Homo sapiens: one gene and its partner. The protein of the gene in region 1 interacts with the protein of each later gene in a biochemical or structural test. Each region holds a gene or a part of one and is shown in the gene's direction. Other genes may lie near its edges.

Evidence for each region. Proteins that work in one complex are often made in the same cells at the same time.
Region 2: the proteins of RHOBTB2 (region 1) and MSI2 form a complex in vitro, tested with the Homo sapiens proteins (one study listed by BioGRID).

The regions. Positions count from the first base shown.
Region 1 is NC_000008.11:23,002,529-23,009,549, forward strand, and holds part of RHOBTB2 (rho-related BTB domain-containing protein 2), read left to right. Parts: intron 1-1,896; coding exon of another isoform or gene 1,897-1,906; coding exon 1,907-2,098; intron 2,099-2,843; coding exon 2,844-2,947; intron 2,948-3,431; coding exon 3,432-3,617; intron 3,618-4,199; coding exon 4,200-5,218; intron 5,219-5,464; coding exon 5,465-5,583; intron 5,584-7,021. UniProt on the Homo sapiens protein: Regulator of cell proliferation and apoptosis. It likely functions as a substrate-adapter that recruits key substrates, e.g. MSI2, to CUL3-based ubiquitin ligase complexes for degradation. Required for MSI2 ubiquitination and degradation.
Region 2 is NC_000017.11:57,251,972-57,259,523, forward strand, and holds the start of MSI2 (RNA-binding protein Musashi homolog 2), read left to right. Parts: upstream 1-4,551; 5' UTR 4,552-4,771; coding exon 4,772-4,833; intron 4,834-4,970; exon of another isoform or gene 4,971-5,025; intron 5,026-5,047; exon of another isoform or gene 5,048-5,076; coding exon of another isoform or gene 5,077-5,126; coding exon 5,127-5,167; intron 5,168-5,494; coding exon 5,495-5,576; intron 5,577-6,298; coding exon 6,299-6,383; intron 6,384-7,552.

The DNA.
Region 1 (7,021 bases):
TAAAAATACAAAATTAGCCGGCATAGTGGCACACACCTGTAATCCCAGCTACCTGGGAGGCTGAGGCAGGAGAATCACTTGAACCCAGGAGGCAGAGGCTGCAGTGAGCCGAGATCATGCCACTGCACTCCAGCCTGGGTGTCAAGCGCAAAACTCCGTCTCAAAAAAATACAAAAACAAAAAACGGTTGTCTGCTGAGGGAGGGTTAGGAGAGAGAAGGGGTGGTACAGTTGCCCTGGAGACCATGAGGGCACTGCATGGAGACCTCGTTGAAGGGTCCAGATCCTGTAACATTCCAAAAAGGCGGAGGAGGTTGTCTCATTGAGAAGTCCTTGCTGCACTTTTTGCTTAGGTTGCTGAGATGCATCCACTCGCACGGATCCCAGTTGCTATCGTTACTTGGATATTTCGGTCTGCATCCCTGCATGCTGGCATCCAGTTACAGCCCAGCAGGAATGGAGCCTCCCTGTTGTTGCTGGTGGCCTGGCTCTGGGCTGGATGGCTCAGCAGCCAGGGTGCCTGGGCAGCCTCCAGCACTCAGAGCTCAGCCTTCCTTAGCCTAGGAGGGATGACTCCGGGCTGCTAAAGCCCCCCCAGACGACTTTCATACACACAGGAATGTGAGTGGGGCGGGCAGATGACGCTGGCGAAACCAAGCGTCCTAATCACGCTGGCCCTGCCCCTGCTCCCTAATCCCAGGAGGGTGGATGCCGAGGCCAGGGCCTCCTGGCGACAGATTTTTAAACACGAACATGACATCTGACTACAGAAGTGCCTTCTGTTTGTTCATTCAAGCCATCCCTCTCTGGGGGTGGACAAGCCACTTCCTCTCTGCTCAACATCGAAGGCAACTGAGGCAAGCATTTGCCCAGAAATTCAGGCTCAAATTTCTGATCTTTTGCTTTCTGGCAATCCCATCGCCCATGTAGCCAGTTTAGTGAACATCACCTAGGAGTGCCAGCTGCCTGGGATCTTCAGCCTGAGGATCATCCTCCCTAGGAATGGGAAGGGCAGAAGAGGGTGGAGGTGGATCTCACTCTCTGACGCTGGGGGCAGGGTGCTGGGAGGACAGCCCCCCGTAGGGGAAGTAGAGGCCCATTGGCCACTGACTGTATCATCATAGGCCTGTGGTTCCCCTCACCCGCATCTGAAAGCTGGACCTGTAGCTGAGCATGACACATGGGCAACAGGACAGACCCCGAATAGAGAAAGGGAGGCCCCTGGGCTGGTCAGGTGCATCCAGGAACCTCCCCATCCTAGAGAGGCTGGGAGGAAAAACTCTTGCATCTCCATAAAGGGGACTGGGGTCTGGGGTTGAAGCATGCACTTAGGCAGGCTAGGGCTTGGAAATCCACCACCACCAGAGAGGGCAAGGGAAAGAGTGGAGGCCAGGAGAGCTGCTGCCCAGTTCTGACAAGTCCATTAAATTTTAAAGTGCCCTGCCCTCAGGCATGCTGGGAAGGGGTGGGGACGTGGCCGACTCTGCTTCTCTCAGCTGTTTGTTGTTCTGCTGCCACTGCTCTGCCGGGGAAGGAGGAGGAGAGCAGATGAGTGAGCTGCCCTCTCTGGAGAGGGGACAGGGCAGGGCCTCGGCAAGCTCCACTGGTGATCTCGCGTAGGTCTCCTTCATCCAGACGCACAGCTGGAGGATCGTGGGAGCAGGAAGGGGACAGGTGGCCCATCTGGTGACACTGCTCCTCTCAGCCTGAATGGGCTCCTGGCCCCTTGGACCCTCGCAGAGCTCTTGCCCAGAACGTTGCCCACTCCTTCCTCCTCCTGTCAGCTCCGGGGCTTGCAGAGGGGGCAGCCTGGCTGAGGAGAGCTGCGGGTGCTGGCCCTGGCCCACGGCGAGCTGGCATGCCATGCCGTCCTGACCGCCTCCCTCCTCTCCCTCAGGTCCCGTTTAATGGATTCTGACATGGATTATGAAAGGCCAAACGTAGAGACCATCAAGTGCGTTGTGGTGGGGGACAACGCCGTGGGTAAGACCAGGCTCATCTGTGCCCGCGCTTGCAATGCCACCCTCACCCAGTACCAGCTGCTGGCCACGCATGTGCCCACAGTATGGGCCATCGACCAATATCGTGTGTGCCAGGAGGTAAGGCTGCAGGACTACCTGGCTGGGGGTCCACGCCATGAGTCTGGGCTTGGGGGCTTCCTGAGGCATAGCTTGGTGTCTCCAGAGCTCACGGGAGCCCTCTAGGGGTGGGACAGGATGGGTTGGGGGCAGCTGAAGAGGAAGGAGCCCCTGGAGAGAGGTTTAAGCCAAGTCTGCCCCAGGGAAGTGTCTCTGGCTGGTTGTGTTTTCAGGGACTGAGCTGGTGCCTGGGACTCCATCTTTGTCTGGGGTACCGCATTGTATGTAGTCACAGCCTTAAGTAATGGGGAGCACTGGAGGGCTGGGGCTTGGAAGAGATACAAGCTGAGAGGAGCAAAGAAGCTGGCAGCTGATAGCAAAAGACCAGAGGCTCACAAACATGCAGTTTGCAAGGAAAGCCAGGAACAAGGGTCAGCTCCCAAAGAGGCCCCTTCCACACCCATAGCAGTCCCTTAGGGTCTCTTCCACCCCCTTAGGGTCTCTGCTACCCTCTTAGTGTCTCTTCCACCTGCTTAGGGTCTCTTCCACTCCTGGTCAGCTTGGAGGCCACCCTTGTTATAGATTCTACAGAGATTTTACGTGGATGAAAGTTGTGCAGGGTGCACAGTGGGCGATGCCAGCCTTGTCCCTCCATGCCCAGTGATGTCTGGGGCCCCCAGGTGTCAGCCGGCGCTTATCCTGAGGTGGCACGCAGAGGTCCCCAAAACTGCTGCCTTCGAGTCCCACTCTTCCTCCCCGTCCCCAGGTGCTGGAACGCTCCCGAGACGTGGTAGATGATGTCAGCGTCTCTCTGCGCCTCTGGGACACCTTTGGAGACCACCACAAAGACCGTCGCTTTGCTTATGGGAGGTAGGGAAGGCCTCTAGCCGCCTGCAGAGAACCAACAGGGTGGGTTTTTCCCTGCTTTTCCCAGGAACAAAGCACCTCTGTGAAATTTCAGCTGGCAAGAAGAAGTGGAGAAAACAGCTCTGGCAGAGCCTCATGGGGGCTGGGGCAGCCTGGTGCAGTGAAGGGAGCCTGGGTCCGGGATCAGGAAGCCTGGATTGAGTTCCAGCTCTGTGCCTAGTAGCTCTGAGATGATGTTTCTCAGCTGTGAAGTGGTGAAAACAGCCATTTCTAACTCACAAAATAGCTGTGAGGCCAAAACAAGTCTTGAGCTCTAAAGTGGCACATAAATTGGAGGTATTGTGATTATATGTTTTGTGTCAAGAGCACGTGAGCAGATACCTAAGCCAGGTGTGGGACTGTACAGGGCTGGGGTGGGGCAGATGTTCCAGGACCAGGTAAGCTACCACTTGTTTCTCTGCCCGTAACCTTACTTTCCCACCCGCAGATCTGATGTGGTGGTTCTGTGCTTCTCCATTGCCAACCCCAATTCCCTCCACCATGTCAAGACCATGTGGTACCCAGAAATCAAGCACTTCTGCCCCCGAGCACCTGTCATCTTGGTGGGCTGCCAGTTGGACCTGCGCTACGCTGACCTGGAGGCTGTCAACAGGGCTAGGCGACCCTTGGCTAGGTAGGAGGTGCTGGTACCAAGGAGACAGACATGGATGGGTGCCTCACCATGGCTCCCTGCTCAGCCCTGGGGGAATTCCACTGAGCCTCATATCTCTCCCTCCATTTGGAGCAAGCTTGCATTGGGAGTCAACAAGCATGCTCATTCATTCATTCATTCATATACCTGTTGCACACCTCTGGTGTGGGCAGTGCTATGTAAAGCATCATGAAGAAAAATAGAGAGGAAGAGGTGATATTTGCATGAAAAAGTCCTATAATTTTGCTGAGGGATAAACTAAATATGTGAGCATGTTAAATACCCATGTGAAGCATTGCCTGCTAATTGCCAGAGAGGCAGTGCTGTCACGGCTTTGTACTGGGGAGGTCACTGGGGCCTGGCATAGTAGGGAAAGCTTTCTGGAAGAAAAAGGGCTTGGAGTGGACCTTGAAGGAGCTTGATGGGATTTGGCCAGACAGAGCAGGGCAGGAGTGGGTGGGGATTGGCACCCAGATCCTGAGCAGAGTCCCTCCAGCCTGTGGAAGAACAGGCAGCCTCCCTCCACCACCAACACAAGCTTGGTTTCCTTCTTGAACCTACCAGGCCCATCAAACCTAATGAAATCCTGCCCCCAGAGAAGGGTCGGGAGGTGGCCAAGGAGCTGGGCATCCCCTACTATGAGACCAGCGTGGTGGCCCAGTTCGGCATCAAGGACGTCTTTGACAACGCCATCCGAGCTGCACTCATCTCCCGCCGCCACCTGCAGTTCTGGAAGTCCCACCTCCGCAATGTGCAGCGGCCTCTGCTGCAGGCACCCTTCCTACCCCCCAAGCCACCGCCCCCGATCATCGTGGTGCCCGACCCTCCCTCCAGCAGCGAGGAGTGCCCCGCCCACCTCCTGGAGGACCCGCTCTGCGCGGACGTCATCCTGGTGCTGCAGGAGCGGGTGCGCATCTTTGCCCACAAGATCTACCTCTCCACCTCTTCCTCCAAGTTCTATGACCTGTTCCTCATGGACCTGAGTGAGGGGGAGCTGGGGGGCCCCTCGGAGCCAGGGGGCACCCACCCAGAGGACCACCAGGGCCACTCTGATCAACACCACCACCATCACCACCACCACCATGGGCGAGACTTCCTGCTCCGAGCAGCCAGCTTTGACGTGTGCGAGAGCGTGGATGAGGCTGGGGGCTCCGGTCCTGCTGGCCTCCGTGCTTCCACCAGCGACGGGATCTTACGGGGCAACGGAACAGGGTACCTACCGGGCAGGGGTCGTGTGCTGTCTTCCTGGAGCCGAGCTTTTGTGAGCATCCAGGAAGAGATGGCAGAAGATCCTCTCACCTACAAATCCCGGCTGATGGTGGTGGTGAAGATGGACAGTTCCATCCAGCCGGGGCCCTTCCGGGCTGTCCTCAAGTACCTGTACACGGGGGAGCTAGATGAGAACGAGCGTGACCTCATGCACATTGCCCACATTGCTGAGCTGCTCGAGGTCTTTGATCTGCGCATGATGGTGGCCAACATTCTCAACAATGAGGCCTTCATGAACCAGGAGATCACCAAGGCCTTCCACGTCCGCCGGACCAACCGGGTTAAGGAGTGCTTGGCAAAAGGCACCTTCTCAGGTATGGAACAGGCTTGGAAAGCAAGGGGGTTCTGCATTGGTGCTATTAGCATTGCCTGTCTGTCTCAGCTCCTGGTGTCCTGGAGCTGCGGCTGCCATGCTCTTGAAGCCTGGTTTTCCCCAGCTGGGAGCGGGTTTGTTCCGTGCCCCGAATCTTCTGGGTTCAGGAGGAGGCTCCGTGGCTCCCCTTGGGGCTTGTTCTCCCAGCTTCTTTCACCAGTCCTCCTGTGATGCTTCTTCTGGACAGATGTGACCTTCATCCTGGATGATGGCACCATCAGCGCCCACAAGCCCCTGTTGATTTCCAGCTGTGACTGGATGGCTGCCATGTTTGGGGGGCCATTTGTGGAGAGCTCCACCCGGGAGGTAAGGCTGAGGACACAAAGGGGGGAAGGAGGGAGTGAGACATTTGCACCCTTTACATCTGAGGCACTGCCACTCAGGGTACTTTCTTCACTGACTGTGTGCTAACCACAGGGTGATGGGCCCAAGAGAGGTTTATGAGGTGGTTCTTGGAGCTAAGGATTATACAATACACCAGGAAAGGGAATTACACTGACACCTCAACTTGAGAGTTTAGAAAGCACTTTCTGTTCATTATCTCATTAAATTCACACGCAACGTACACATGTGCCACTCCTGCCGTATATCTAGGAAAGGGAGCCCCTGAGAAGTTAAGTGACTTGTATGAAGTTGGAAGTAGAGTTAGGACTTGAACTCAGGACTTCCATTCCTTGGCTCTTTACTTTGTACCTTACTGCCTCCCTGACACACTTGAAACAACTGAATGCATCACTGTTTTAAAAGATAGGTTTTATTATTATTGAGGTGTAGAGAGGCCCACAGATTGCAAGATGGCTGTCATTGATAAGACAACTTGTTACAGATCCCAAGAAAAGGGGGCATGCCACAGCACCATGGCTGGGGTCACATGGGGAAGCTCTGGGGTCAATCAGGAGGCAGAGGGTTTCTGTGGGAGGGAATGGGCGAGGCAGGTTGAGCAGGTTTAGGATTAGCTGTTTGAATAATGTTAGCCGGCTCTGGGGCCTGGATGCTGTCTCTAGTTGTCTGTCACCTGGCTCTAGGGGGATTAGGGCAGGGGAACAGTGGCCTGGAGTGTGAGGGCCCATAGGGGAGGTAGTGGGCTGTGGGCTCTGGATTGGTTGGTTTGCATATGAAAGGCACACTTGCAGGCAACTCCTTCACTATCCCTAGGACTTGGCCAGCCCTGAGGGAGGCAGTCCCTATAGGGCCAGCAAGGCTTTAGTTGTCAAAGCAACAAAATACAGAAAATAGGTGTAGGGGGTGGCTTACACCTGTAATCCCAGCACTTTGAGGGGCTGAGGTGGGAGGATTGCCTGAGCCCAGGAGTTTGAGACCTGCCTGGGAAACACAGACACCATCTCTACAGAAAAAAAGAAAAAAAGAGAGAGAGAGAGAAAAGAAGGAAGGGAGGGAGGGAGGGAGGAAGGGAAGGAAAAGCATACTTAATAGAACCACCTGCCTCTCTAATCAGTGACCCTCTAGCTCTCACGATGCCACCACTTTCTCACTCACCTAGATTGGAAACTTAGGGTTGGAAGAAGCCTATCAATGTGTCCTTAGAAATATTCTCTTAGGTTTGGTCTCTTTTCCATTCCAAGCAGAGTAGCCTGGGCAGTAGCCCTTGGTGTGCTCTGAACTCCTGGACCTCAATTGCCCATCACTGAGTGTCGTCGAACCTTGTAGTTAACGAGGTTCGACTTTGTGCAGGCGCGTGGAGTTCTGAACGTCCACACCGTTTCCCCTACTGTTCTGTAACTGC
Region 2 (7,552 bases), on another chromosome or scaffold:
TTTTCAAATCTACATGAAATATTTATAAAAATTGACTGCACCAAAGCAAGTTTCAATAAATAACAAAGAATCTGCTTCATATAGATCACATTCTTTGACCTTAATTCAGTTAAGTTAGACGTTAGTAACTAAAGAATAACCTCAAATACCCCTCAAATACACCTGTATTAATTCACTAGTCAAACAAGAAATCGTATCTGAAATCTAATTTTTTTTTTTTTTTAAACAGGATCTCGCTCTGTCACCCAGGCTGGAGTAGTGACATGATCATGGCTCGCTACAGTCTCAACTTCCCAGGCTCAAGTGATCCTCCCACCTCAGTCTCCTGAGTAGCTGGGCCTATAGGTGCATGTTAGCACACCTGGCTAGTTTCTAGAAAAGTTTTCTTTTGCAGAGATGGGGCCTCACTATGTTGCCCAGGCTGGTCTCAAACTCCTGGGCTCAAGTGATCCTCCCACCTTGGCCTCCCAAAGTGCTGGGATTACAGGCATAAGCCATTGTGTCCAGCCTAAAATCTAAACTTTTTTTACCTCATTGGTGATAAAAAGTCTATATATCTTGTGGAATATAGCTTGAGTGGTACTTAAAGTGAAATCTGTAGTCTTAAATGTTAAAATCAGAAAACAGATGGCTAAAAATTAATTACCTAAGGCAACAATTCAAAAAAAAAAAAAAAGAGCAACAGAATAAATCCAAAAAGAGCAGAAGCAGAAGGGAATACTATATGATATATATTAATATTACATTACATATTATATTCTCACAAACTATATAATAGTATATATTTTCTATTGTGCCATATATAACAATATAATATATAATAATATATAAGAACAAAACTTACTGGAACAGAAAAAGAAACAATATTGAAACTAAAGTCTGGTTCTTTGGAAACACTAATAGAAAGTAGAAAGAAAACATTAGTAAAAAAAAAAGATCTCTGGCACAGCTGATCCAGATAAGAAAAAATACATATAAAATGATATTTAGAATGAAAAAAAAACATTATGGATAGATAGAGCAGAGATTAAAATACATTAAGAGATAACTATGAACAGCATTTTGTCAACACATTTGAAAACCTAGATGGTATGGATAATTTCCTTGAAAAACATAGTGTATAAAAATAGATTCAAGAAGAAAACAGAAAACCTGAAGAGATCTACGAGCATTAAAGAAATGGAATCAGTAGTTAAAAATCAACCCACGAAATGTCTATCCCAGACCCAGACAATTTACCTGCAAAACTACCAAACATTCAAGGAACACATAATTCCAATCTTACACACACTGTTCCAGAAAATGAAAAAAGAAGGAACATTTACCGGTTCATTTTATGAGACCAGTATAACCAGACAAAGGCAGTAAGAAAAGGAAAAACTGCAGCCAATTTGACTTATGAACATGAATACAAAAAGAATCCTAGAATGAAATTAAATGTTGGCCATCATTCATTCATTCATCCACTCACTCATTCAGTCAATCATTATTTATTGAGCGTCAACCGTGCGCCAGCAGGCACTGTGCTAGTACATGGAGAGCAGAAAGGCACGGGAGCTTCTGGCTTAGAGGAGATGGGCAATAAAGCAAATGATCATACAGGGTAAGGTACACAGAGGACGTTCTGGTAAGGTAACTGCATATCAAAGGGCATTCGACCCTGTCAGAGAGGTCTGGGAAAGATTTCCAGGCATGTAAGTGGAGTAAGGGTGTATGTGGGAAGACTGTTTTGTAAGCTGTTGCAGGGCCTCAGGTGGGAGATCTGGGATGCAGCAGCAAGAAAGATGGATTTGAACTTGGGCTTCCTTTAGAAAGGCTAAGTGGAGATGTTGAATAGGAAATTGACCAGAGCCTGGAGCTCTTCAGGAAGGGTGGGGCTGGAGATTTCAATTTGAGTGGCATCACCATGTGTTTAAACCCATCCTGGAAGATTGAGTTTGAAGAAGGAAGTGTCCAACATTGTCTTGGGCTGTTGAGACTTTCAGAGGGTTGAGGACTGATATTGTGCTGCTTGAATTCTCCTGATGCAGGGGCTACATTGAGTGAGCTGGAGAAAAAAAATGCATAAAATAATAATAATAATAATAATAATAATAATAATAAGCTATTACAAATAATGTAGAGCAAAGGGGCAGCAAGAGGGAATTTTTTTGGACAATGAAACTGTTCTGCATCTTGATTATGGTGGTGGTTACATGACTCTATACATATGTCAAAACTCATAGGATTACAGACCAAAAAGAGTAAATATTACCGTATATAAATTAAAAATAAATGAGTAAAAACAATGTAGTAATGGAGACTTAAAATCCAGTTCTTTCTAAGCCCTGACTTTGTAACCGCAGCTCTAGCCCCTCTCTGGATTTTAAATCAGTTCTATAAGTGTCAGCTTGTGGAGGTCTATACCAGACAGGAAGGGCCCCCAACTCTCGCCTTGTGAGGGACAGAATAAACACGCAGGCAGCAGAGGCCACACGGCATTGGACTGATGGTCAGAGGGTGGGGGTGGGGTGTAGCCTGGTGAGTTTGGCACCTCTGAGACGCTGATGTATAATGAGGGGATTAGATTAGGAAAGGCCTTTCTACCTAGGATGGCCTGTGGTTCTACTGTAAAAATCCCAAACACAATACAATTAGCTCTGTTGTCTGCATTTTGTTTAGAATAATCAATCATAATAAACAATCATTGTAACAACTGGCTGTTCAACACATGAGACCCCAGATGATTTGGGAAGGAGCTTGGAGTGACAGGAAATGTTTGGGTTTGTGGTTTAAAGCCTTAGAGCACCTTCTCAATATGATTATATTGAGTAGTGATTGATAATAAACACGACTCAGGTTTACAGTGAAAAAGGAACTTTTACAACATTGGTTCACTTCAGCCTCTCACCTTCACCACATCAATCCTGTCAAGGAGGAATTACTGCAATTTAGGGAACAGGGAGACTGAGGGTCTGGTCACTCAAGGCTATGGCTGGTGTTGAGATTTTCCCAATATTCCATTTTTCCAAAGCCCACAGTGGATTTGGTTCAGTTTTGGTGTTGAGTGTATTCCTTTGTCTCCTAATCCTATGAAAATTAATGGAAAAGTGTTAATTGGGCATCAATTCATGCTTAACATTAATCTCAGTATTTGATGAACCACAACTTTATGTTGCCCCTCATGCCATATTAACTCAGTTTATTGCAACAATTTAAAACGATACAGATTTAAAACAATATGGGTAATTGTATCCGTATTGTTTCAAATGCCCCATAAATTGAAACCAGCCCGAATTTGGGCAGTCTGGAATCTGCCGGAGAAACTTTCATGCGATGCCTTTGGAAGGCTACAGACATTGTCTTTTTGGAGTTTTCAGTGCATGAAGGTATGAAACCGCATTTATTAAGCACCTACTGTATGCCAGAACCCGTGCTGCACAATACTACTGCTGCTAAGGTGGGAGTGATTCTGAAGCCTTCTGCCACCCTAGCTACCTCTGCAGGTCGTGAGGGGTCTTGGGCTATTTCAGTATCATGCACTTTACTATCCTGGCATACAAAGGCTGGGTGAGAAATAAAATATATAACGAACGGATTACACAGGGGTTTCCTGAAATAACCACCCTTCCCATCCATCCCAGAGACACCCCAAAAGTACTTCTCGTTATATACAAACATTTGCTTTGAACCTCAATCATGTGACCTTGACTCCTATAACCTATCTTATTACATTTTTAAAACACTGTATGATTAACGCGGAAACCCTTTCTTCGGCACTTTCTCGCCACTGGAATCGCGTCAGTTTCTCAAAGTTCCAAAATAACCTTTCCCGGGCACGGATTGGTACCTCTACTGGGGAAGGGCGGGGAACCGCGCAAGACGTGCCGGTGTGGAGCCAGAGCCAGAGAGAACTTCCAGCGCAAAAGGAAAATAAAACTTGTGGCTGGTGTTTGTGCAGGAGGGTCTCCGCCATCCTGAAGCCCCCCGATCCTGGGGCGTCTCGGGGGCCGCCAAAGGAGCGCCAGGGTGTGGGTTTGCTCCCGACGTCCTTGACCTAAATTTCTGAGCGGTGGCTGGAAACAGGGCACAGCGGAGGGCGGGCGGCTGGTGCCATTCCCGGATCTCGGCGGCAGGGGCCGGCAAACTTGAATGGAGAGGGCGAACTAGAGAGGGTGGGGGGCGTCTTCTCCCAGGTCCGGGTGAGGAGCCGCAGCAAGCTCCCCGCGCCTCCCCTCCCCCGATCCACCCGCCCCCCGCAGCCCATGTGATCCAGGGAAGTCGGGGTGCGCTCCCCCTCGCCCTGCGCCCTGCCGGCCCGGAGGCGGGGTCCCCTCCGCCCGCGGGGTTCGCGCGCCACCCTTGTGGGTCCGGCCGTGGGGGGCCGAGTGTGCGCGCGCGGGCAGGCGGGGGCCGCACGGGGGTGCGTGACGTCACCGGCATTGGTTACACGACGTTCTAGAACTCCGCCCCACGTGCGCCGGGGAGGAGGGGGAGGAGGAGGAGGAGATGGGGGTGGGGAGGAGGAGGGGGAGAGGTGGGGATGGGCCGGGGGGGCGGGGACGGGGGGGTGTGCGAGGCAGCGGGGCTGAGCTAAGCCGAGCCCACGTGTGACGGCTCTCGCCGCTGCCCCGGCTCCGCCGCTCGCAGAGAGATTCGGAGGAGCCCGGGCGGGGGGGAGGAGGAGGGGGAGGAGGGAGCGGAGATCTCGGGGCTCGGAGCCGGCCGCCGCTCCGCTCCGATCGCTGTGGGGCTTGGTTTTTTGGGGGTGGGGGGGCGGGGGGGCTCAGATATGGAGGCAAATGGGAGCCAAGGCACCTCGGGCAGCGCCAACGACTCCCAGCACGACCCCGGGTAAGTTTCCAGCCGCTGCCCACCGCGCCGCCTTGGGCTCGCTCTCCTTGCAGCGGCGGGGACGGCGGTGCGCGGAGCCGGGCATCTCCCGCGCCCCCCCGCCTCTCCCGCGCGCCCCCCCCGTGGAAGTTACACACCTTTGGATTGCATTTCGCCGTCACCTTCTCCCCCACCCCACCTCCCGGCTCTCGCTCGCTCGCTCCCCCCCGCTTTCCTTTTAGCTTTTGTAAGTTACACGTCAAAATGGCCGATCTGACATCGGTGCTCACTTCTGTTATGTTTTCTCCCTCTAGTAAAATGTTTATCGGTGGACTGAGCTGGCAGACCTCACCAGGTAAGGGAGGGAGGGGGGGACGCCTGGGTCCCCCCCTTCTTGGCTTCTTTATTGCTCTTTGTTATCCCGGTGTAGGAGCCCCCCCCCCCCCGCCATTGGCTCCCCACTTCTCCTGTGCAAGGTTATTTTTTTTAAATAGCAAATCCTTTCTGAGCCCTCTATGCGACCTCTGTTGCCGAATTTCCCCCGCGTGTGCAAAAAATGCAAAAACAAAACAGAATAACAACAGAAAACTACTTTTGGATTTTGTCCTTGATCAAAATTTGCATTGCTTTTTTTTTCCACACCTTCTCTCCCCCCCCCATCTCTCTCTTTCTCTCTCTACAGATAGCCTTAGAGACTATTTTAGCAAATTTGGAGAAATTAGAGAATGTATGGTCATGAGAGATCCCACTACGAAACGCTCCAGGTAAACCATTCCCTTCTGGATTTTGTCTTTATTTTAGAACAAAGTTTAAGTTTTATTTTTGGAGGTGTCTTCGGAAGTAGCTAAGCGGATTAGAATGGGGCTCAGGCGCGTGGCTGATCTCGAACGGCGCTCTATACCACCCCCACCGCCCCCTAGTAACCCCAGAGGTTATTGTTAATTGGAGCTGAACTCTGGATACAGAGATACCCATCTCTCTGCTTTTAAGTCATTTTCCCGTCGCTTCTTTTTCTCTGTTTAAAATGACATTCAGCTTCATTTACTTTCGCATAGTTTTTTTTTTTCTTTTGATCTTAATGTGTGTTTCCCCCACACTCCCAGCTCCCCAAACTCTTAAGATCCCTCTTAGAAAGATGGTGGTAAATCTCTTCTAAGTGCCGGGCTTTCTTCGGAATAAAACAAAGCGTTAAGAAAGGGAAGGGGAGGAGGAGAGGAAACTGAGGTGGCCAAAGAGTGGAGGCACCAGCATTTTCCAAGTTACCTCCACCCTCCCTGCCCCCGTTCCACTTCCCCCGTTAACCTTGATGTTTTTTCTTGCGAGGTGGAGGGCTGTAGGCAGGAGGGGAATTGGAGGAGGGGAGTGGGAGGTGGGGGTGCGTGGGGGGCAACTTTTGCTCCTCATTCAGCCTTAGGTCTCACTCCTGGTTGCTTTCAATGGTGTCACATTTTCTTGTTTGTTTTTCTCCCTCTTTGTCTCCTTTCAGAGGCTTCGGTTTCGTCACGTTCGCAGACCCAGCAAGTGTAGATAAAGTATTAGGTCAGCCCCACCATGAGTTAGATTCCAAGACGGTAGGTTGCTTTTTGTTGTTGTTGTTCGCCCCTTTTCAGGAACGATCTGGGCATTGACAGCCCCATTTAAAGGGACAGTGCCTTCTTTTGCTTCTGTGCTAGAACTGGGTAGTTTTAAACTGAGCTAGCGAGTTGGCTCAAAAGTTTGCTGCTGTGGCTGGCTTTGGGGTTTTCTTTTTAGAGCCTGTCCCATTGCAGCTTCAGAGGCTGCCAAGGTTAGGCTTGGGGAGGAGAGGGTTCGGCTCCTGGAGAGTCTGCCTTCCCGGCCTGGGGACTGTGCAGAGAAACTCCACCAGAGAGCAAATGCAACTTTTCTTTGTCAGCCAAGCACAGCACGCGTTACCAACTGTGGCTGTGGGGATCAGCTTTGAGAAGGCACAGCCTGCTTTGTGGCCAAGGGGGACAGCAGTGGGAAGGAGGGGAGAGGGCGCTAATTACAGGTCCAGGCAACAGGTTTCTCTTGGGGCACTTGGGATTTGGAATGTGCTTTGGGAAGGGAAGGGGACGCTGGCGGAGCTGAGCTGGGCATCCACTGGGGTGACTCCAGATGGCATGAAATCTAAGGCTGATAAGGCCTGGGGGTTTCAAAGTGATTTTTTTTTCCTTCCTTTTCTTTCTCAGATCCTTTCATTTGAGTATGGGTACTTTTATACATCACAAGTTTTAAAAATCCAGAGTAGAAGGGGGAAGAGTCTCCAGGCAGAGGTCAGAAGGGGAAGGGAAGAAAGAGTGTCTGTATATAACAATACATTTAATGGGAGGGGGAGTGTGCAGTGTTTTATTTAGCCCCTGTGTGGGCTTCCTGCCTCTCCTCCCTTCCCTTTATGTCTACCAGAGTTTCCCCACGGTTTTTATTAATATATATCTGCCCCAAACAGAGGCCTTAAGATGACATTGGGCTGTAGTGCTGGGTTGCATGGAACTTCACTCCTCTGTGATGGGGTAGTGGGACAAGGCCAGAAATGGGGCTCTACTTCCATCCGCCTCTTATGAAAGTGAGCAAGACATTCCCTACCTCTGGGTCTCAATTTCCTCTTCTGTAAAATAAGTGGACCAAGGTGATCTTTCAAGCCCCTTTTGGCTTTAACATTGAATGGAAGAGAAGGAAAGCAAATAAAGAAACCTGGCAACCTTCGGTGCACTTGAATTGATTTTGCAAATTCACCCTC